3 separate regions of the Homo sapiens genome follow, and regions 1 and 3 are each linked to region 2. The links come from fine-mapping of genetic effects on gene expression. A gene starts in region 2. Each other region holds a variant in brackets. All regions are shown on one strand. Distances are from middle to middle. Region 1 overlaps LOC105372437 (a long non-coding RNA gene). Region 2 holds the start of NAPSA (napsin A aspartic peptidase). Region 3 overlaps SPIB (Spi-B transcription factor).

Evidence for each region.
Region 1: its variant is fine-mapped to the expression of NAPSA in whole blood (TOPMed, PIP above 0.99).
Region 3: its variant is fine-mapped to the expression of NAPSA in whole blood (TOPMed, PIP above 0.99).

The regions. Positions count from the first base shown.
Region 1 is chr19:50,339,739-50,347,177 of GRCh38, reverse strand. The region is part of intron 2 of LOC105372437 (a long non-coding RNA gene); the gene reads right to left. It also overlaps the pseudogene NAPSB. Among named protein-coding and RNA genes, the nearest start is that of KCNC3, 14 kb to the right of the region's middle. RefSeq lists enhancers at 2,490-2,539, 4,370-4,609. The variant AT/T (reference allele first, on the strand shown) is at 4,051.
Region 2 is chr19:50,362,455-50,369,893 of GRCh38, reverse strand. It overlaps NAPSA (napsin A aspartic peptidase), which reads left to right and starts at 4,255. Exons shown (of 9, transcript NM_004851.3): 1 at 4,255-4,355. The coding sequence starts at 4,273. The region is part of intron 3 of LOC105372437 (a long non-coding RNA gene); the gene reads right to left. RefSeq lists enhancers at 1,052-1,111, 3,905-4,054.
Region 3 is chr19:50,421,175-50,428,613 of GRCh38, reverse strand. SPIB (Spi-B transcription factor) reads right to left here. Exons shown (of 6, transcript NM_003121.5): 3 at 6,069-6,141; 4 at 5,577-5,791; 5 at 4,859-5,009; 6 at 1-576. The coding sequence ends at 278. Among named protein-coding and RNA genes, the nearest start is that of SPIB, 6.0 kb to the right of the region's middle. RefSeq lists enhancers at 1-255, 1-383, 384-957. The variant C/G (reference allele first, on the strand shown) is at 3,897.

The DNA of each region.
Region 1 (7,439 bases), 23 kb after region 2:
TACCCCCTAGATTGCTCAATCAATCACGGTCCTTTCATGTAAAATCTTTAGTGTTGTGAACCCTTAAAAGCGACAGAAATTGTGCACTCAACAAGCTTGAATTTTAAGATGCTAGTCTGCTGATGCTTCCAGCTGATTAAAAGCTACTTCCTTCACTATCTCGGTGTCTGTGGGGTTTTCTCCACAGCTTGTCCTGCTACACTAGAATAGCATATCCAGTGAAAATATTCTTCAAGCATGAAGGAGAAATAAAGACTCTCCCAGAACAAACAAAGCTGAGGAATTTCATCAACACCGGATCTGTCCTACAAGAAATGCTAAAGGGAGTACTTCAGTCAGAAAGAAAAGCATGTTAATGAGTGATAAAAAATCATCTGGGCCAGACGCGGTGGCTCACGTGTGTAATCCCAGCACTTTGGAAGGCAGAGACATGTGGATCACGAGGTCAGGAGATCGAGACCATCCTGGCTAACACGGTGAAACCCCGTCTCTACTAAAAATACAAAAAAATTAGCCGGATGTGGTGGTGGGTGCCTGTAGTCCCAGCTACTCGGGAGGCTGAGGCAGGAAAATGGCATGAACCCGGGAGGTGGAGCTTGCAGTGAGCTGAGATCGCACCACTGCACTCCAGCCTGGGTGACAGAGCAAGACTCCGTCTCAAAAAAAAAAAAAAAAATCATCTGAAGGTACAAAACTCACTGCTAATAGTAAGCACACAGAAAAACATGGTGTATTGTAACAGTATAACTATGGTGTGTGAACAACTCTTAAGTAGAAAAACTAAAGGATGAACCAATCAAAAATAATAACTACAACAACGCTTCAAGACATAGACAGTACAATAAGATATAAATACAAACAACAAAAAGTTAAAAAGTTGGGGACAAAGTGAAGGTGTAGAGTTTTTACTAATTTTCTTATTGTTTGTTGGTTTGTTGGTTTGTTTATGCAAACAGTGTTAAGTTTATGTTGTCAGCTTAAAATAATGGGTTATAAGATAGTATTTATGGCAGGGCACAGTGGCTTACGCCTGTAACCCCAGCACTTTGGGAGGCCAAGGCAGGCGGATCATGAGGTCAGGAGATCGAGGCCATCCTGGCTAACACGGTGAAACCTCGTCTCTACTAAATATACAAAAAAAAAAAAAAAAAAATAGCCAGGTGTGGTGGCAGGCACCTGTAGTCCCAGCTACCCTGGAGGCTGAGGCAGGAGAATGGCGTCAACCCAGGAGGCAGAGCTTGCAGTGAGCCGAGATCGAGCCACTGCACTCCAGCTTGGGTAACAGAGCGAGATTCCATCTCAAAAAAAAAAAAAAAAAAAGACAATATTTGCAAGCCTCATGGTAACCTCAAATCAAAAAACATACAACAGATACAAAAAAAAAAGCAAAAAATTAAATCATATGACCAAGGAAAATTATCTTCTCTAAAAGGAAAACAGAGGCCAGGTGTGGTGGCTCACATGTGTAATCCCAGCACTCTGGGAGGCTGAGGCGGGTGGATCACCTGAAGTCAGGAGTTTGAGATCAGTATGGCCAACATCATGAAACCAAATCTCTATTAAAAATACATAAATTAGCCAGGTGCAGTGGCACGCGCCTGTAGTCCCAGCTACTCGGGAGGCTGAGGCGAGAATCGCTTGAATCCAGGAGGCAGAGGTTGCAGTGAGCCGAGATTGCACCACGGCACTCCAGCCTGGGCGACAATGAGATTCTGTCTCAAAAATAAATGAATAAATAAATAAATAAATAACATGAAAGAAGGACAGAAAGAAGAGAATACTACAAAACAACCAGAAAACAAGTAACAAAATGTCAGGAGGACGTCCTTATCAAGAACAACATTGAATGTAAATGGACTAAACTCTCGAATAAAAAGATATAGAACGGATGAATGGATGAAAAAGAAGACCCAATGTTTTGTTGCTTACAAGAAACATACTTCACCTACAAATAAGAGTCTGGGTCCTCAGACGCAGGCAGTCCCACTTCATATGGGAGGGCAGGCTTATAATCAGTTCCTCTCTCCCTTCCCCAGGCCCTTCACAGACACCTGCTGGTCCCTCCCACTTGGCCAAGGAAACACTGTGGTTAATGAGTCTCAGAAAAGTGATGTGAAAGTGAGAAGTAAAAGTGACAGAGGCTAAAGGATGGGGGGTGGGAGGCAGTCCCAGCAGAGGACACCCCACGACCACCACCCCCCAAGTAGGGAATGAGGAGCACTAAGGACACAGGATACAACTTTTGTTGACACTACACAAATACTCTGCACAAATCTTCAAAAACATCCTTGTCCCCCTGTGTCACCTGCTGAGAGACCTCGTGTTCTGGTCACCTCCTAAACCGGGAGGTGGGGCATAAACAGGGTGGAGTCACAGGGGAAAGAAAACTAGGAAGCCTGGGTTCACACCCGGCTCCCCAGCAATGTCTCCACCACTGCTGCTGCTACCCTTGCTGCTGCTGCTGCCTCTGCTGAATGTGGAGCCTGCTGGGGCCACACTGATCCGGTATGGTGACCCCATTTGCCACCCCCAAACCTGGGAGGGATTCTCTGCTTTTTGCCCTTTAAGTCTGGGGCTCCTGGTTCAGTGATTCCCAAACCTGGCACCCAGGATCCTTGACTCTTCTTTCTTGGCTTTCCAGATCTCTAAAGTGGGCTCTCACCCCGAGGGCTCTACTCTGACATCTCCTAAGATCAGAGCTCCCTTTTATTTATTTATTTTTTTTGAGACAGAGTTTCACTCTTGTTGCCCAGGCTGGAGTGCAATGGCACGATCTTGGCTCACCACAACCTCCACCTCCTGGGTTCAAGCGATTCTCCTGCCTCAGCCTCCCAAGTAGCTGGGATTACAGGCATGTGCCACACCACCCCGGCTAATTTTGTATTTTTAGTAGAGATGGGGTTTCTCCATGTTGATCAGGCTGGTCTTGAACTCCCGACCTTAGGTGATCTGCCCACCTCAGCCTCCCAAAGTGCTGGGATTACAGGCGTGAGCCACCACGTCTGGCTCAGAGCTCCTTTTTTAAAATAATTTTTTTCTTTTTATTTATTTATTTGTTGAGATTGGGTCTTGCTGTGTCACCCAGGCTGGAGTGCAGTAGTGCGATCATGGCTCACTGCAGCCTCAAACTCGTGGTCTTAAGCCATTCTTCCACCTCAGCCTCCCAAGTAGCTGGGACTACAGGCATGTGTCACCATGCCCAGCTAATTTTTGAAATTTTTTGTAAAGAAGAGGGTATCCCTATGTTTTGCAGGCTGGTCTCCATGTCCTGGGCTCGAGCAATCCTCTCACCTCAGCTTCCCAAAGTGCTGGAATTACAGACGTGAACTACCATGTCCAGCCCAGAGCCCTTTTAAGTCCCAGATCCTCCAACACTGAGACTCTTTTTTTGTTTTTTTTGTTTTTTTTTTTTTTTGAAACGGAGTCTCACTCTGTTGCCAGGCTGGAGTGCAGTGGCGTGGTCTCGGCTCACTGCAACCTCCGCCTCCTGGGTTCAAGCGATTCTCCTGCCTCAGCTTCCCAAGTAGCTGGGATTACAGGCACGCACCACCATGCCTGGCTAATTTTTGTATTTTTAGTAGAGATGGGGTTTCACCATGTTGGCCAGGCTGGTCTTGAACTCCTGAACTCGCGATCTGTCCGCCTCGGCCTCCCAAAGTGCTGGGATTACAGGCGCGAGCCACCACACCCGGCCTTCACTAAGACTCTTGAGTGAGGAACCCTCCCCTTCTTCTCTGGATATGTTTTTTTGGAGGCCTCTGCAGATCCCACTCCAAGCTCTGATGACCAGTTATGGGGGTCTCCAGACATGTGACACATTCCCGCCATCTTGGAGACCAAGGCATGTGACATTTAAACTAAGACTCCCCCACATTCACACCCTCCAAATTGTTTAGGCCTCAAGAAGTCTATTTTTTTGTCTGAGCACAATGGCTCACCACTGTCAACTCAGCACTTTGGGAGGCCAAGGTAGGAGAACTGCTTGAGGCTAGGAGTTCAAGACTAGCTTGGGCAACATAGTGAGACCCCCAGTCTCTACAGAAAAAAAAA[AT/T]CAGCCAGGCACGGTGACAGGTGCCTGTAGTCTTAGCTACTTGGGAGGCTGAGGTGGGAGGACCATTTGAACCCAGGGTTTTGAGGCTGCAGTGAGCTATGATTGAGCTACTGTACTCTAGCCTGGGCGACAAGGGAGGTCCTGTCTCAAAAAAAAAAGAAGTCCAGTTTTGGGGACCCCACCCAAGAAGTTCTCCCCTACCTTACCTCTGATGCTTCCCCAATTTCTCCCTTCCCCTCTTCTCTTCTCTTCTCCTTACCCCTTGGGGCTCTTCGCAGGGGGAGGGGTGTATTTTCCGGAAAGTGTTTTCCCCACTTCTCGTTCTTGTGCCTTTCAAAGACTGAGTCATGAGGGGTGAGGGCAAAGGTGTGAGTGAGGGTGTCATGCTCCAAGGAGTGACTAAAATTGGGTACAAAAATATTACTGCAGGCTGGGCGTGGTGCCTTATGCCTGTAATCCCAGCTCTTTGGGAGGCCGAGGCAGGTAGATCACAAGGTCAGGAGATCGAGACCATCCTGGCTAACATGGTGAAACCCCAACTCTACTAAAAATACAAAAAAATTAGTCGGGCGTGGTGGTGGGCGCCTGTAGTCCCAGGTACTCAGGAGGCTGAGGCAGGAGAATGGCGTGAACCTGGGAGGCGGAGCTTGCAGTGAGCCAAGATCATGGCACTGCACTCCAGTCTGGGCAACAGAGCGAGACTCCATCTCAAAAAAAAAAAAAAAAAAAATTACTGCATGAGGCCAGCCATGGTGGCTCACACCTGTAATCCTAGCACTATGGAAGGCAGAGGCCTGGAGGATTGCTTGAGGCCAAGAGTTCAAGACCAACCTGGCCAACATAGTGAGACCCCATCTCTTTCTACAAAAAAATCATTAAATATAAAATTTATTTTAAAAATTACTGCACATTATGTTTGTTAACCAGCTTTTTTTTAAGATTTTCTTTTTTTGTAGAGATGGGGGGTCTCACTATGTTTCCTAGACTGGTCATGAACTCCTGGCCTCAAGTAATCCTCCCACCTCAGTAAGATCTTTGAATAAGTAAGGATTTACAATCTGAAATTCTCCCAGGACTCTGAGAGTATAGATGTTGCTGGTGTAAGGTTCAATGAATTCATCATTCCCTATTCATCTGCTTTGCAAACCTAATATATCACGGACATTTTCCAAGTCAATGCAAAGAACAGTGAGTCTCAGAATGTTGTCTCAAAACCAATAGCATTAGCATGGCCCAGGACCTTGTTAGAAATGCAAATTCTCAAGCCCCATCCCAGATCTACTTAAAAATTAAGAGATCTGAATTTGAACCAGCCCTCTGAGTCTGGGCTTGGCAAACACTGAGCCTGAGGGTCAAACCCTGCGTGCTATTTCCCTTTTACAAATAAGCTAAAGGGAATCTAGGCCAGATGTAGTGGCTCATGCCTGTAACCCCAACACTTTGCAGGGCCGAGGCAGAATTGCTTGGGGCCAAGAATTTGAGACCAGCCTGGGCAACTTAGCAAGAACTTATCTCTACAAAAAATGAAAAAAAAATTAGCTAGGATGTGGTGGCATATGCCTGATTCCAGCTACTTGGCAGGCTGAGACAAGATGACCTTTGAGCCTAGGAGTTTGAGACTGCAGTGAGCCACAATCGTGTCATTGCTCTCCAGCCTGGGCAACAGAGTGAGACCCTGTCTCTAACAAAACTGGAGTCAGCATGCGCATTCATTTCCATAGCATCTGTTGTCTGCAGTTGCTTTCATGCTATCTGGACAGATTTGAATAGTTACCACAGAGACTGTCTGGCCTGCAAAGCCTCTACACAAAGATTTGCCCAACACCACTGCTGTAGGTGATTTTGGGTCATGCTAAATAAAGTTTGAGAATGACTGGTATAGACAGCTACTTCCTCCTTCTTAGAGGTCAAATGGGGTTCCATTCTATGTATGTTCCAAAGCAGAACTAAGCTGTACCCATTGTTGGCCACTGTAACCGCCTAGCTGGTTCTTTCTGCCTGCTGCCCAGATACAGCCAATTTATCAAGATAGGAAAGCGGCAATAGAGAAAGAGTTTAATTTATGCCGAGCCACTGGCTGAGCAGGAGACCAGAGTTTTATTATTACTCAAATCAGAGGTGGGCATGGCAGCTCACGCCTATAATCCCAGCACTTTGGGAGGCCGAGGCGGGTGGATCACCTGAGGTTAGGAGTTCAAGACCAGCCTGGCCAACATGATGAAACCCCGTCTCTACTACAAATAGAAAAACTAGCTGAGTATGGTGGTTGGTGCCTGTAATCCCAGCTACTTAGGAGGCTGAGGGAGGAGAATCACTTGAACCCAGGGGGTGGAGGTTGCAGTGAGCTGAGATCATGCCAATGTACTCCAGCCTGGGTGACAGAGTGAGACTCCATCTCATAAAAAAACAAAATGAAAACAACAAATTAGCCTCCCCTAACATTTGGAGGCCAGGGTTTTTCAAGGATAGTTTGTCAGGCCTGGGAATGGGTGCTGCTGATTGGTCAAGGATGTAATCATTCATAGGGGCCTGGAAAATAGTCTGCTTCTGGGTGGAGCCACAGGACTGGTTGGCAGGTCTGGGTGGCATCACCAGAAATGCAAAAACCCTTAGTCTCAAAAGGCCAATCAGGTTCTACAGTAGTGATGTAATCTGCAGGAGTAATTGGGGAAGCTGCAAATATTTTGACCTCTGGAATAATGACTGGTAATCATTTATGTCTGCACCTTAGCAGAATTCATGCTCCTCTCATCCTCCTATCCTGGTGGTACTTCATTAGCTTTACAAAGGTGGTTTAGTTTTGGGGATGGACTATTACCATTTAAACTATAAACTGTCTCCCAAAGTTAGCTTGGCCTAAGCCCAGGAATGACCAAAGGCAGTTTGGAAGTTAAAGGCAAGGTAGCGGTTGTTTAGATCAGATCTCTTTCACTGTCCTAATTTTCTCACTTATAGTTTTTGCAAAGGCAGTTCATCATTGGACTGTCTCCAGTTTCCAAAATTAGGCACAGCCTCATAAACCCACCTCTGTGCACTCATCCAGTGATCTCCTATAGATGAAATTCTGGGTTGTGTTAAATGGTGGGTACAATTTTCGAGCATTTGATACACATTTGCAAACCTAATCAACAATAAGTATTCTCAGTTCTTTGCCAATCTGTATGGTGAAACAAGGTTTCTCACTGTTGTCATTTGTATTTTTTTGATGACTGTTGATGACATCTTTCCATGTATTTAGAATTTATTTGTACTTCTTTTGCAATTTTATGTCCTTTGTCCATTTTCCTAATGAGCGTCAAGAACTATGAAGTTAGTTTGCCATAGTTTCATGGCTGCTCATAGAAGACCCAAGACTCCCAAGTCAGAGACAAAGGGCAGTTTATTACTC
Region 2 (7,439 bases):
CCCACCTCAGCCTGCCAACGTGCTGGGATGACACGTGTAAGCCACCATGCCCGGCCTATGTTTAATATTTTGAGTAGGCCAGGTGCAGTGGCTCATGCCTGTAATCCCAACACTTTGGGAGGCCAAGGCGGGCAGATCACCTGAGGTCAGGAGTTCGAGACCAGCATGGCCAACATGGCAAAACTCCGTCCCTACTAAAATTACAAAAATTGGCAGGAGAATCGCTTGAACCTGGGGGTTCGGAGGTTGCAGTGAGCCGAGATCACAGCCACTGCACTCCAGCCTGAACAGAGCGAGATTCTGCCTCAAAAAAAAAAAAAAAAAAAAAAAAAAAACACTAATGCGAGACCTCGGGAAGGTGCGATATAAGATCATAGAGGGAACGCAGGTCCGAACTTGAGGCCTTGTGGGGTCTGATGTGGCCCACAGTGCCTGAGAGTCACCCAAAGGGTCCCCCACTCTTGGACACACAACTGGACTACATTTCCGGGTCGTCCTTGCAGCCAGGAGCAACCACGTGACAGATTCCCACCAATGGAACAGGGGCAAAAGTAATCCTGGCAAAGACGATGCGAGGCATCTGGGCTGATTACTTGGTGTCTGCAGCTTCAAGAACCAGGTTCAATTCCCCTCCAAGTGCACCTGGGCTGCCTCCTCTTAATCTTGCTGCACCGCAGCAGCCCCTCCCCAACCCGGTAAAATGTGGGCGATAATTCCTTTCTTACAAGGTTAGTAAATAAAATGACGGGTTTAAAAATCTGGCAATCCTTTACCTAATCACTTCCTGAGGGGATTCGGGAAAGATTGTGTTGGGCGATTCTGGAAACTGTGCTCCTCTGATGGTGGAGGCCCACTCGGTCACAACCCCCTGAGAGACAAGACATGGGGAGATCCAGGTCCCATTGGCCGGGCCGTGTTCGGCAGGAGATCTCCCAGTACGCTTGGGCAGGGGAGTCAGGGAGGAAGCCTGTTCTGCTCCTTTTCCCGTGGGGTGCAGAGAGCGAGCAAGTCGGCATTCCAGGCGGTGGGAACTGCTAGGGCGGAAGCAGGAAAGCTGGAGAGAGCCTGGTGTTCCAGGGGTCCAGCTCTAGAAACGGGTGGCGGCTGGGGAATCTTGGCTGGGAAAACAGGCCCACACCTCCACCTTGTGGCCAATTGGGAATTTGCAGGCACGGCCTCTCAAACTACTTAAGGGCGCTTGGGTGCAGTTGGATGGGGTGCTGCAGACGGAAAGCGTGCGGGGCGAGTTGAAGGGGCCCAGATCGAGTGCTCTGACTGAGAAAACAAAGGGGGGTGGTGACAGTTATCAGGGACACGTTCGGCTGCTTCAGGAAAATCCCCCAGAGCAAGGAGTGCACAAAGTGGATCTTTACCATTATTTATGTATTTATTTATTTCTGTTGAGACAGTGTCTCACTCTGTCACCTGGGATGGAGTGCAGTGGCGTGATGACGGCTCACTGCAGCTTCAGCCTCCTAGGCTCAAGTTATCCTCCAGCCTCACCTTCCCCAGTAGCTGGGACTACAGGAGTGTGCCATTACGCCCAGATAATTTTTACATTTTTTTTGTACAGACAGGGTCTCCCTTTGTTGCCCAGGCTGGTCTCCAACTCCCAGGCGCAAGCGATCCTCCTGCCTCAGCCTTCCAAAGGGCTGGGATGACACCCCCAGCCTCCCAAACGCACCCCCACCGCACCTAGCCTTTCTTTTGTTTCTTTTTTTTTTTTTTTTTTTTTTGAGAGGGAGTCTTGCTCTGTCGCCCAGACTGGAGTGTAGCAGCGCGATCTTGGCTCACTGCAACTTCCGCCTCCCAGGTTCAAGTGATTCTCCTGCCTCGGCCTTCCGAGTAGCTGGGATTACAGGCGCTGACCACCACGCCTGGCTAATTTTTGTATTTTTAGTAGAGACAGGGTTTCACCATGTTGGCCAGACTGGCCTCGAACTCCTGACCTCAAGTGATCCGCCTGCCTCAGCCTCCTAAAGTGCTGGGATTACAGGCATGAGTTACCGCATCCAGCCGATTTCTAAGGGTTTTGACTCCAGTCCCTGGCTCACTGACTGTATCTCTGGACCCACCTGGGACCTGAGGTAACTTGATGCCCTGAAGGGAAGGATGCAAGCATGGCTGCCTTTGGAACCTGCTAGTTTTAGAGCCCAAGGGCCTTGAGCAAACATAAGCAGTAGGCAGGTAGGTCGTGGTTACAGGAGGCCATGGGCAGGACCCAGCGCAATCCCAGTGATAGTAGGCATGGGGTGTTTGTGTCACCCCACTCCCAGCTCCAGGTAGCTCAGCAGAGAGAGAGAGACAGAGACAGAGAGAGAGAGAGAGAGAGAGAGAGAGAGAGGGAGAGAGAGAGACTGACTCTGTTTGAGAGAAAGCAAGGGAAGAGAGCAAGAGTCTCTGCCTGGTAATCCAGATAAATCTTCTGGATCTTATCTAAGACCACTAAGATAGTACCTCTATGAGTTTGCAAGAACCACAGCATTAATGGGCTTGGGGAGCCCCCTAATGCAGACATGGCTTAGATCACAACACCCAAGTACTTTTGAATACCTGGAAAGCCTCCCCAAAAAGGACAGGTACAAACAAGCCTTGTCTGCAAAGACTACAATAAATACCTAACATGGCCAGGCATGGTGGCTCATGTCTAATCCCAGCATTTTGGGAGGCTGAAGCAGGAAGATCACCTGAGGTCAGGAGTTTGAGACCAGGCTAGACAACATGGTGAAACCCTGTCTCTTCTAAAAATACAAAAATTAGCTGGGTGTAGGCTGGGTGCGGTGGCTCATGCCTGTAATCCCAGCACTTTGGGAGGCCGAGGCAGGTGGATCACCTGAGGTCAGGAGTTCGAGACCAGCCTGACCAATATGATGAAACCCTGTCTTTACTAAAAATACAAAAACTAGCTGGCATGCGCCTATAATCCCAGCTACTTGGGAGGCTGAGACAGGACAATCGCTTGAACTCAGGAGGCAGAGGTTGCAGTGAGCCAAGATGGCGCCATTACACTCCAGCCTAGGCAATAAGAGTGAAACTCCATCTCAAAAAAAAAAAAAAAATTTAGCCAGGGTGGTATCGGGTGCCTGTAGTCCCAGCTACTCGGGAGGCTGAGGCAGAATTACTTGCACCTGGGAGGCAGAGGTTGCAGTGAGCTGAGATCACACCATTGCACTGCAGCTTGGGCAACAAGAGCAAAACTCCATCTAAATAAATAAATAAATAAATAAATAAATAAATAAATAAATAACTCATCAATGCCCAGCCACCAATGAACATCTATAAGCATCAAGGCCATCCAGAATAAATGACCTTACCAAACAAATCAAATAAGCCACCAAGGACCAATCCTTGAAGAAACAGAGATATGTGACCTTTCCGACAGAGAATTTAAAATAGCTGTTTTGAGGAAACTCAAAGAAATTCAAGCTAACACACAGAAGGAATTCAGATTCCATCACATAAATTTAACAAAGAGATTGAAATAATTGAGAATCAGCTGGGTGCAGTGGCTCACGCCTGTAATCCCAGCACTTTAGGAGGCTGAGGCGGGCGGATCACCTGAGGTCGGGAGTTCTAGACCAGCCTGACCAACATGGAGAAACCCTGTCTCTACTAAAACTACAAAATTAGTGGGGCGTGGTTGCGCATGCCTGTAATCCCAGCCTGGGCAACAAGAGTGAAACTCGGTCTCAAAAAAAAAAAAACCAAAAAACAAAAACAAAAACAAACAAACAAAAAACAATACCCAATGATCTGTTGTCAACAAGAAACATACTTCACCTACAAATAAAACAGTAAGAGACTGGGTCCTGAAATGCGGGCCCACTTCATATGTGAGGGCAGGTGTCTAATCATGTCCTTTCTCCCTTCCCCCAGGCCCTTCACAGATACCTGCTGGTCTCTCCCACTTGGCCAAGGAAACACTTGTGGTTAATAAGTCTCAGAAAAGTTATGTGAAAGTTAAAAGTAAAACTGACAGCAGCTGAAGGATGGGGGGGTGGGAGGTGGTGACGGTGGAGGAGACCCCACCACCACTGCCACCCAAGTAGGGAGTGAGGAGCACCAGGAGCACAGGATGCTACTTCTGCCAACCCTACAAAAATACTCTGCACAAATCTTCAAAAAACATCCTTGTCCCACTGCGTCACCTGCGGACAGATTTCATGTCCTGGTCTCCTTCTAAACCTGGAGGTGGGGCATGAACAGGGTGGAGTCACAGGGGAAAGAAAATGAGGCCCCAGGACACCTGGGTTCACACCCAGGTCCCCAGCGATGTCTCCACCACCGCTGCTGCAACCCCTGCTGCTGCTGCTGCCTCTGCTGAATGTGGAGCCTTCCGGGGCCACACTGATCCGGTATGGTGACCCCATCTACCACCCCAACCTTAGGAGGGATTTTCTGCCTCTTGCCCTTTAAGTCTAGGACTCCCAGTTCAGTGATCCCCAAACTTGGCACCCAGGATCCCTAGAGCTTCTTTCTCAGCTTTCCAGATCTCTAAACCAGGCTGTCACCCCTAAGGGCTCCACTCTGACATCTCTTAAGACCAGATTTCTTTTTTTTGAGATGGAGTCTCACTCTGTTGCCCAGGCTGGAGTGCAATGGCATGATCTCAGCTCACTGAAACCTCTGCCTCCTGGGTTCAAGCGATTCTCCTGCCTCAGCTTCCCAAGTAGCTGGGATTACAGGCTCGCGCCACCATGCTCAGCTAATTTTTGTATTTTTAGTAGAGACGGGGTTTCACCATGTTGGCCAGGCTGGTCTGGAACCCCTGACCTCGTGATCCGCTCACCTCGGCCTCCCAAAGTGCTGGGATTACAGGCGTGAGCCACCGCGCCTGGCTGACCAGAGCCCTTTTATTATTATTATTATTATTATTATTATTTATTATTATTATTATTATTTGAGACAGAGTCTTGCTCTGTTACCCAGGCTGGAGTGCAGTGGGGCGATCTCAGCTCACTGCAACCTCTGCCTCCCGGGTTCAAGTGATTCTCCTGCCTCAGCCTCCCAAGTAGCTGGGACTACAGGCACATGCCACCACGCCCGGCTAATTTTTGTATTTTTAGTAGAGATGGGGTTTCGCCATGTTTGCCAGGCTGTCTTGAACTCCTGACCTCAAGTGATCTTTCCGCCTCAGCCTCCAAAAGTGCTGTGGTTACAGCTGTGAGCCCCCGCGTCCGGTCCCAGAGCCCTTTTAAGTCCCAGATCTTACAACACTGAGACTCTAGATTGAGGACCCCTCCCCCTCCTCTCAGGACTTTTTTTTTTTTTTTTTTTTTGAGACTGAGTCTCACTCTGTTGCCCAGGCTGGAGTGCAGTGGCGCAATCTTGGCTCACTGCAAGCTCTGTCCCCCGGGTTCACATCATTCTCCTGCCTCAGCCTCCCAAGCAGCTGGGACTACAGGCACCCGCCACCACGCCCGGCTAATTTTTTGTATTTTTAGTAGAGATGGGGTTTCACAGTGTTAGCCAGGATGGTCTCGATCTCCTGACCTCGTGATCCACCCACCTCAGCCTCGCAAAGTGCTGGGATTACAGGCGTAAGCCACCGCGCCTGGCCTTTTTTTTTTTTTTTTTTTGAGACGGAGTCTTGCCCTGTCGCCCAGGCTGGAGTGCAATGGCGCGATCTCAGCTCACTGCAACCTCCACCTCCCAGGCTGACACCATTCTCCTGCCTCTGAAAGTGCTGGGATTACAGGCGTGAGTCACCATGCCCGGCTAATTTTTTTTGTATCTTTAGTAGAGATGAGGTTTCACCATGTTGGCCAAGCTGGTCTTGAACTCCTGACTTCGTGATCTGCCTGCCTCAGCCTCCCAAAGTGCTGGGATTACAGGCGTGAGCCACTGCGCCTGGCCAGGACATGTTTTTGAGAGGTCTCTGCAGACCCTACTATGAGCTCTGATGATTAGGTACTGTGGTTTCCAGACCTGTGACACACTCCTCCCATCTTCGAGCCCCAGATATGTGACATTTAAACTGAGACTCCCCCACATCACGCCCATCAAACTGGCCTGAAGAAGTCATGTTTTTGGCCAGAGACATGGCTCACACCTGTAACCCAGCACTTTGGAAGTCCAAGGTGGGAAGCTTGTTTGAGGCCAAGAGTTTTGAGACCAGCCTGGGCAACATGGCCAGACTCCACCTCTACAAAAAATACAAAAATTAGCTCAGTGTGGTGGTGCACACCCATGGTCCCAGCTAGTTCAGGAGGGTGAGGAAGGAGGATTGCTTGAGCCCAGTAGTTCGAGGGGGCAGTGGGCTATGATCCTGCTACTGCACTCCAGGCTGGGCAACAGGGTGACACCTTGTCTAAAAAAAAAATTAATAAATAAAATAAAATAAAATAAAAAGCCAGGTGTGGTGGTGTGCCCATAGTCTCAGCTACTCCAGAGGCTGAGGTGGGAGAATCACTTGAGCCCTGGAGATCAAGGCTGCAGTGAGCCCTGACTGCACTACTGCACTCCAGCCTGGGTGACAGAGGGAGACCCTGTTTCAAATAAAAAGTTTAAAAGAAGAAAAAGAAATCCAATCTTGGGGACCCTATGCAAGAAGTCTTCCCACTACCTTACCTCTGATGTCCCCTCCCCGCCCCCATCTCTCTTTTTCTCCTCTCTTGTCTTCATTCCCTGGAACTCTTGGTAGGGGGAGGGGTGTACACTTCCAGGAAGAGTTTTCCCCACTTCACATTCTCGTGCCTCTCAAAGACTGACTCATGGGGGGTGACGGGAAAGGTGTGAGTGATGTGACAAGTGCTTCAAGGAGTGACTAAAGGCAGGAACGAAGATATTACCGCACATGGTGCTTGTTAACCTGCTTTTTGAACCTAATGTCTCATGGCCATTTTCTAAGTCAATGCAAAGAAAATGAGTCTCCAAATGTTGTATCAACAGCATCGTCATGACCTGGGAACTTGTTAGAAATCCAAATTCTCGGCTCCATCCTAGACCTACTTAATTAGCAACTAAGATACCTGAATTGTAATTGGCCCTCTAAGTCAAGGGTTGCAAACACTCAGCTTAAGGGCCAAATCCTGTTTGCCTCCTGCTTTTGCAAATACAGTTTAAAGGAACCCGGACAGGGCATAGTGGCTCTCCTCTGTAATCCCAGCACTTTAGGAGGCTGAGGCCAGGAGTTTGAGATCAGCACGGGCAACACAGCAAGACAATTAAGATTTGACGCTTACATTTTTCTCCTCAAGGGTGGGGAAAATAGTCCCTAACCTCACGAACTGAAGCATGCAGGGGCCACCACCCAAGGGCTTTTGCAAAGGTTAGGTTTTCTGTTAGGGTCTTGGGAAATCTTTAAGAATGTCAATTCCTTGGGAATAGCTTATTTTAAGGGATTTGGACATGGAAAGGTCTGTTTGGGATGGTTTGCTCTTGTAAAGTCTTTGGGGATATTTGTCATCATGGCATCTTTGATGGGCTTTTCTGGAGGT
Region 3 (7,439 bases), 59 kb before region 2:
TAGTGGTCCATAGGTCCTGTCACCCAAAACATGAGGATCCCAGGGAGTCTGTACATGACAAAGAAATCCCAGAGGACCCCAGGCACAAGTGGGGAATCCCAGACAGGCCCGGGCTGGGCTTGGGGATTATGGCAGGGCAGCACTCCCCTTACCCCAAAAGGTGGGGATGCGTAAGTCCTATCACCTAGAGTGTGGGGACGCCCTTTTTCTTCCAGGGGGATCCTGGCTGGGACGTGAGGTCCCCCAGCGGCTCCGCAGGTGGGAGCCTCGGGTGTGCTCAGGCCCGGCGGACTGCAGGCAGCAGCGCGCTGTCGAACTGGTAGGTGAGCTTGCGCTTGACCTTGCGGATCTCGCCGGTCTTGGCGTAGTTTCGGAGGGCGCGCGCCAGCTTCTGGTAGGTCATGCGCTTGCGGTTCCCCTTCTGCTGGCCCCAGCGGCGCGCCAGGAGTTCCTTGTGCTTGGAGGAGAACTGGAAGACGCCGGCGCCTGGCTCCACCCACCACACGCACTCACGCATGTCCCCGCGCGTCAGTAGCCCCAGCAGGAACTGGTACAGGCGCAGCTTCTTGCGAGTCCCTGCGGTGGGGTCGGGGGCACGCGTTAGGTGAGGGGTCCCTAAGGCCCCGCCTTCCCCATCCACCCTCCTCCGAGACTTCCACCCCGGCCTCCATCTCCTGGATCTGAAAAGTGGGGTGAGGGAAGTGGCTGTTACATACACCTGGCTCTGCGCCCCTCACCACGGGGGGGGGGGGGGGCAAGCCACTCCCCCTGCCCGAAGCTGTCAGCCCCAGGCCCCCTCCGCGTTCTGTGCTTTAATTTTCGAGATTTACATCTGTCCTGCCTTCCGCCCTGCGGCCAGCACGTAATATTCCATATTTGTTGAGCTAGTGGATGAAAGAATCTGTGAAATGGGTTGACAGCGCCGCTTAAAGGATTATAACGGAGAGGCGAACAGATCTGGAGGCAGTTGCATTGGCCTGGCTATCTCTCCAGCTCCTGGTCTCCCAGCCTCTCAGCCCAAAGCGGGACAGGGTCCCGGGAGAGGCCAGGGCACCTGACTCCTGGGCTCCTAGGGTTTAGTTTGTTTTTGAGACGGGGTCTTGCTCTGCGGCCCAGGCTGGAGTGCAATGGCGCAATCTCGGCTTACTGCAGCCTCTGCCTCCTGGGTTCGAGCAATTCTGCTGCCTCAGCCTCCCGAGTACCTGGGACTACAGACGTCTGCCACCATGCCCGGCTTATTTTTATATTTTTAGTAGAGACGGGGTTTCGCCATGTTGGCCAGGCTGGTCTCGAACTCCTGGCCTCAGGTGATCCGCCCACCTCGACCTCCCAAAGTGCTGGGATTACAGGCATGAGCCACTGCGCCCGGCCAATAACTGGGAGTTTCAAAGCAGGGCACTGGCTACAAGAATCCCATCTCTGCCATTTTACAGCAGTGTGACCTTGGGGTGGTGACGTAGTGACATCTTAATTTCTTTTTTTTCAAGGCAGGGTCTCGTTCTGTCACCCAGGATGGAGTGCAGAGGAGCAATCACAGCTCACTGCAGCCTCGACCTCCTGGGCCTAAGCAATCCTCCTGCCCCAGCCTCCCCAGTAGCTGGGACTACAAGTATGCACCATCATGCCTAGCTAATTGTTTTATTTTTTGTAGAGATGGTGTCTTACTATGTTGCCCAGGCTGGTCTTGAACTCCTGGCCTCAGGTGATCCTCCCACCTCGGCCTCCCAAAATGCTGGGATTACAGGTGTGAGCCACTGCACCCGGATTGAATTCTTATAATTTTAGGCTGCCTCGGCATTCATCGAAAGTATAAGTTGGAGGCTGGGCGCGGTGGGCCATGCCTGTGATCCCAGCACTTTGGGAGGCCAAGGTGGGCAGATCACTTGAGGTCAGGAGTTCGAGACAAGCCTGGCCAACATGATGAAACCCGGTTTCTACTAAAAATACAAAAATTAGCTGGGTGTGCTTGGCTCATGCCTGTAATCCCAGCTACTTGGGAGGCTGAGGCAGGAGAATCACTTTAGCCCAGGAGGCAGAGGTTGCAGTGAGCTGAAATCATATCATTGCACTCAGCCTGGGCAACAAGAGCGAAACTCCCTCTCAAAATAAAATAAAATAAAACTAAATAAAAGTTGGACATTCTCATGCTGGAAGCAGGGCTGTCCTCCTTGGCAGTTCTACATCTCCCTCCCCGAGTTCCTCAGTGTGGCTGACCCAGATATCTCTCTTATGCAACTGACTCCTGGTGACCACCTCCCTGTGGGAGAGCCATGGACAGCCTACTTGACGGCCCTGCATGGACTGTGCAGATGCCTCAGTGACCCCCTCTCAGGCACAGCGTGACCTCCTGGAACTTGATCCTGCTTGCTTTCAACCCACCAAGTATTTATTTATTTATTTATTTTGAGCTGGAGTCTTGCTCTGTTGCCCAGGCTGGAGTGCAGTGGCATGATCTCAGCTCACTGCAAACTCTGCCTCCTGGATTCAAGCGATTCTCCTGCCTCAGCCTCCCAAGTAGCTGGGATTACAGGCGTGCACCACCAGGCCCAGCTAATTTTTGTATTTTTAGTAGAGACGGGGTTTCACCATGTTGGCTAGGCTGGTCTTGAACTCCTGACGTTAGGTGATCTACCAGCCTCAGCCTCCCAAAGTGCTGGGATTATAGGCATGAGCCACTGTGCCTGGCCTGAACCCACCAATTAAAACCCCCTCAGGAAACCTGTTTGGCCGACGCCTTGGACCCAATAAAGGCGTCAGTCCACTGGTCCCTCTCTCTCTCCCTCCCTGCCTGCGCTCCCTGACCTGGTGTGTGTGGCCTCCAGGCGTGCCATGTATGCCCCAGGACCTATAAGCCATAAAATAATTTATTTCTGGCTGGGTGTGGTGGCTCATGCCTGTAACTTCAGCACTTTGGGAGGCTGAGGTGGGAGGAGCACATAGGCTCAGGAGTTGGGAGTTCAGCCTGGGCAACATAGCGAGACCTCACCTCTACAAAAATTTTAAAAATTAGTCAGGTGTGGTGGTGTACGCCTGTGGTCCTAGCTACTCAGGAGGCTGAGGCAGGAGGATCGATTGAGCCCAGGAGTTTGAGGCAGTAGTGAGCCGAGATTGCGCCACTGCGCTTCAGCCTGGGTGACAGATGGAGACCGTCTCAAATAAATGAATAAAAATAAATAAAATCTTTATTTCCATCTTGTGTCTTTCCTAGTCATTGGAGAGATCCTCTCCATCTTAAATGTCCTAAGTTAAAATAGGTGACTTAATTAACCTCTCTGAGCTGAAGTCTCTCAGCCACAAATGAGGCTGTGTGGCTGGGCACAGTGGCTCACGCCTGTAATCCCAGCACTTTGTGAGGCCGAGACGGGCGGATCACCTGAGGTCAGGAGTTTGAGACCAGCCTGGCCAGATGGTGAAACCCCATCTCTACTAAAAATACAAAAAATAGCTGGGTATGGTGTGGGTGCCTGTGATCCCAGCTACTGCGGAGGCTGAGGCAGGAGGATTGCTTGAACCCAGAAGGTGGAGGTTGCAGTGGGCCGAGATCGTGCCACTGCACTCCAGCCTGGGTAACAGAGCGAGACTCTGTCTCAAAAAATAAATTAATTAATTAATTAAAATTTTTTAAATGAGGCTGTGGTTTTGTTTGTTTGTTTTTGAGACGGAGTCTTGCTCTGTCACCCAGGCTGGAGTCCAGTGGTGCAATCTCAGCTCACTGCAACCTTTGCCTCCTGGGTTCCAGCAACTCTCCTGCCTCAGCCTCCTGAGTAGCTGGGATTACAGGCATGTACCACCATGCCCCATTAATTTTTTTTTCTTTCTTTTTTCTTTTTTTTTAAGACAGAGTCTTACTCTGTCGCCAGGCTGGACTGCAGTGGCAAGATCTCGGCTTACTGCAA[C/G]CTCTGCCTCCTGGGTTCAAGCGATTCTTCTGCCTCAGCCTCCCGAGTAGCTGGGACTACAGGTGCACACCACCACGCCTAGCTAATTTTTGTATTTTTAGTAAATGTGAGGTTTCACCATGTTGGCCAGGATGGTCTCGATCTCTTGACCTCGTGATCCATCCTCCTCAGCCTCTCAAAGTGCTGGGATTAAAGGCATGAGCCACCATGCCCAGCCTAATTTTTGTGTTTTTAGTAGAGACGGGGTTTTGCCATGTTGGCCAGGCTGGTCTCGAACTCCTGACCTCAGTTGATCTGACCGCCTCAGCCTCCCAAAGTGCTGGGATTACAGGCGTGAGCCACCACACCCAGCCTGTGTGTTGATTTTTACAATGCACCGTGGAGCATGTAGTGCCAGGTGCTTCACAAGGCACTTTACAGTTATGAGCTCATTGAATCTCCATCATAACCCCGTGAGATGGGGAGGATGACAGTGATGCCCACTTTACAGACGAGAAACCGAGGCCCAGACACAGAAAGGAAGGAACGATCTCAGCTTTCTTGGGGTTGAGCATAAAGGATGTTGGGCACACGGGCAGGGGGCAAGGGTTGAACCGTTGGGGGTTGATAGCATTATCATTTCTGTTGCTGTGGTGTCGGGAATGATGGTGAAGAGGTTGACTTATTGAAGTGCTCACTCTGTGCCTGGCACTGCTGTCCCATTTACACTTACTATCCCATTTAGTCCCCCCAACGACCTCAGGAGGGTAGACACTATCACCTCCATCCCCATCGCACAGACAGGAAACCTGGGCACAGAGAGGTAGAGGCACTTACCCAAGGTCACACAGCCAGCAGGTGGTGCGGATCTGGGAGCTGCCCAGAGTGCTGGAGTATATGTAGAGGCCCAGGAAGCCATGGTGCTCTCAGCCCCCCCACCATCTCCAGCTGGCATCTCCCCCACCCCAGCCACTCCCGCATACCTGCCTCGGATCCCTTCCCCTCGGGGCCAGCCACGAGGGCCTCATCCGACTCGCTGTCCGAGACCTCCAGGGCAGGGCTGTCCAACGGTAAGTCTTCCTCCTCTGATAGCACAGGGCTGGGGTACGGGGCATATGCCGGGGGAACCAGGGTCTGCGGAAGGTCAGGGTCACCTGCATGTCCAGGGACCCCTTGTCTCCCTCCACTTCCTCCTCTCAGGCCAAGGCGGTGGCCCTCCTGGCTCTGGTCTCCCTCTTTGTTGACAGCCTAGATTTTGGCCTTTGTTCAGATCACCACGCTGTGGCCAGGGGACACCTGAGGTACCTCCTCAAAGCCGGCCCAACACAGGTAATGCGAGTCTGCCCTGTCCCTGGCTTCCTGTCACTACCTCTCTTGACTCACTTGTTCAGAGGGGCAACAACGGAACGTAACCTGGGAGGCCGCTGCAGGGCTTACTATGTGCAGTCTCAATGCAGTGCCCGGCACCCAGCAAACCTCAACCAAATGACTGAGCTTGAGTTTTCTTTTCTTTTTCTTTTTTTTTTTTTTTTTTGAGACAGGGTCTTGCTCTGTTGCCCAGACTGGAGTGCAGTGGATTGCCTCGACCTTCTGGGCTCAAGCAATCCTCCTCCCACCTCAGCCTCTCAAGCAGCTGGGATTACAGGCGTGCACCACCACACCTGGTTTGGGCTTGATTTTAACTGTCCCCTTACCACTCACCTGGCTAGCGAAGTTCTCCGTGGGGTATGCAGGGAGGCCAGGCCCCGGGGCCTCCAGGCTGGGGGCCAGTTCGAGGTTCCCTGCAGGGCTGTAGGTGGGGGGTTCGTAGCAGAGCTGGGCAGCCTGGGGGTGGCTAAAAGCGGCTGCTGCCGGGTCGAAGGCTTCATAGGGGGTGGCTGGGACAGGTGGGGCCACAGTCCAGTCCCACAGGGAGTCTGGGGGAAGGGCACTGAGTCAGAAGCTGGGATGTCTCACGGAGGCCTCCTCGCAGTCGAAGCCCCCAGCACAGAGAGGCCATTGTAGGCTGTGCAAATCTCTGACCCCAGGATTTGCATGGAGGAGCGGATGGGTAGGAGAGGAAAGGGGAGGAGGGCTATAGGCCCGGGCCACCTTTATCCTGTTGTGCTAGGAAATGACCTCCCCTGGGCCTCAGCTCCCCTATCTGTGAAATGGGCCCCAAGGCAGGAAGGGCACAGGGCTGGGGTCACTCACCAGGAGCCCCCTCTGAATCAGGGTAGCTGGAATGCTTGCAGCTGTCCAGGTCATAGAAGACGCCATCTGGGTACTGATACGGGGTGCAGGAGGGAAGAGGGGTCATCCCAGGCCTTGGGGACTCCCAACCCCCACCCTGGACCCTTGGGGAGACTCCAACACAGACATGGGAGAGAAGAGGGGATGCTGGAGAGATTAGAGCAACAAAGAAACACAGAGACTAGGCATCAGAGACAGGGACAAAGAGACAGAGATACAGAGAGTAGAGACACAACCCAATAGGGGCACACAGCAGCCAGCTCCTGCTAAGACGGTGGGCTCCCAAGAACCCTGGCCCCTCACTGGCACACAGTCAGCGAATCAGGGCGCCTGGAGAAGGGGTGGAAGAACTCCCCCAGCCTTGCCTGCCTGGGGGCTCCGGAGGTGAAGGGCAAGGGGAAATGGAAGTGTTTCACTTAACAGAGGCAGGGGTCAATGCTTTTTAAATACACCTCCAGGCCAGGCGTGGTGGCTCACGCCTGTCATCCCAACACTTTGGGGGGCCGAGGCGGGCAGATCACCTGAGGTCAGGAGTTCAAGACCAGTCTAGCCAACATGGTGAAATCCCGTCTCTACTAAAAATACAAAAATTAGCTAGGCGTGGTGGCGCACGCCTGTAATCCTAGCACTTTGGGAGGCTGAGGCCAGTGAATCACCTGAGGTCAGGAGTTCGAGACCAGCCTGCACAACATGGGGAAACCCCATCTCTACTGAAAATACAAAAATTAGCTGGGCCTGGTGGCAGATGTCTGTAATCCCAGCTACTCTGGAGGCCGAGGCAGGAGAATCGCTTGAACCTGGGAGGTGGAGGTTGCAGTGAGCTGAGATCGCGCCACTGCACTCCAGCCTGGGTGACAGAGTGAGACTCTGTCTCGAAAAATAAATAGGCCGGGCATGGTGGCTCATGCCTGTAATCCCAGCACTTTGGAAGGCCAAGGCAGGCAGATCATGAGGTCAGGAGATCGATACCAGCCTGGCCAACATGGTGAAACCCCGTCTCTACTAAAAATACAAAAATTAGCCAGGCATGGTGGTGCGCACCTGTAGTCCCAGCTACTTGGGAGGCTGAGGCAGGAGAATCGCTTGAACCCAGGAGGCTGAGGTTGCAGTGAGCCGAGATCGCACCACTGTACTCCAGCCCGGCGACAGAGCAAAACTCTGTCTCAATAAATAAATAAATAAATAAATCTCCATATGTTGATTCGCCCCATGAATCATGTGTTGTTGCTTCAAGAACTCGAGTCTAGGAAAAACTAAAGCTAGATCCACACCATGCCTAGGACCTGGCAGTCTCACTCCTTGGCATTTAATCAAGAGAACTGAAAATGGATG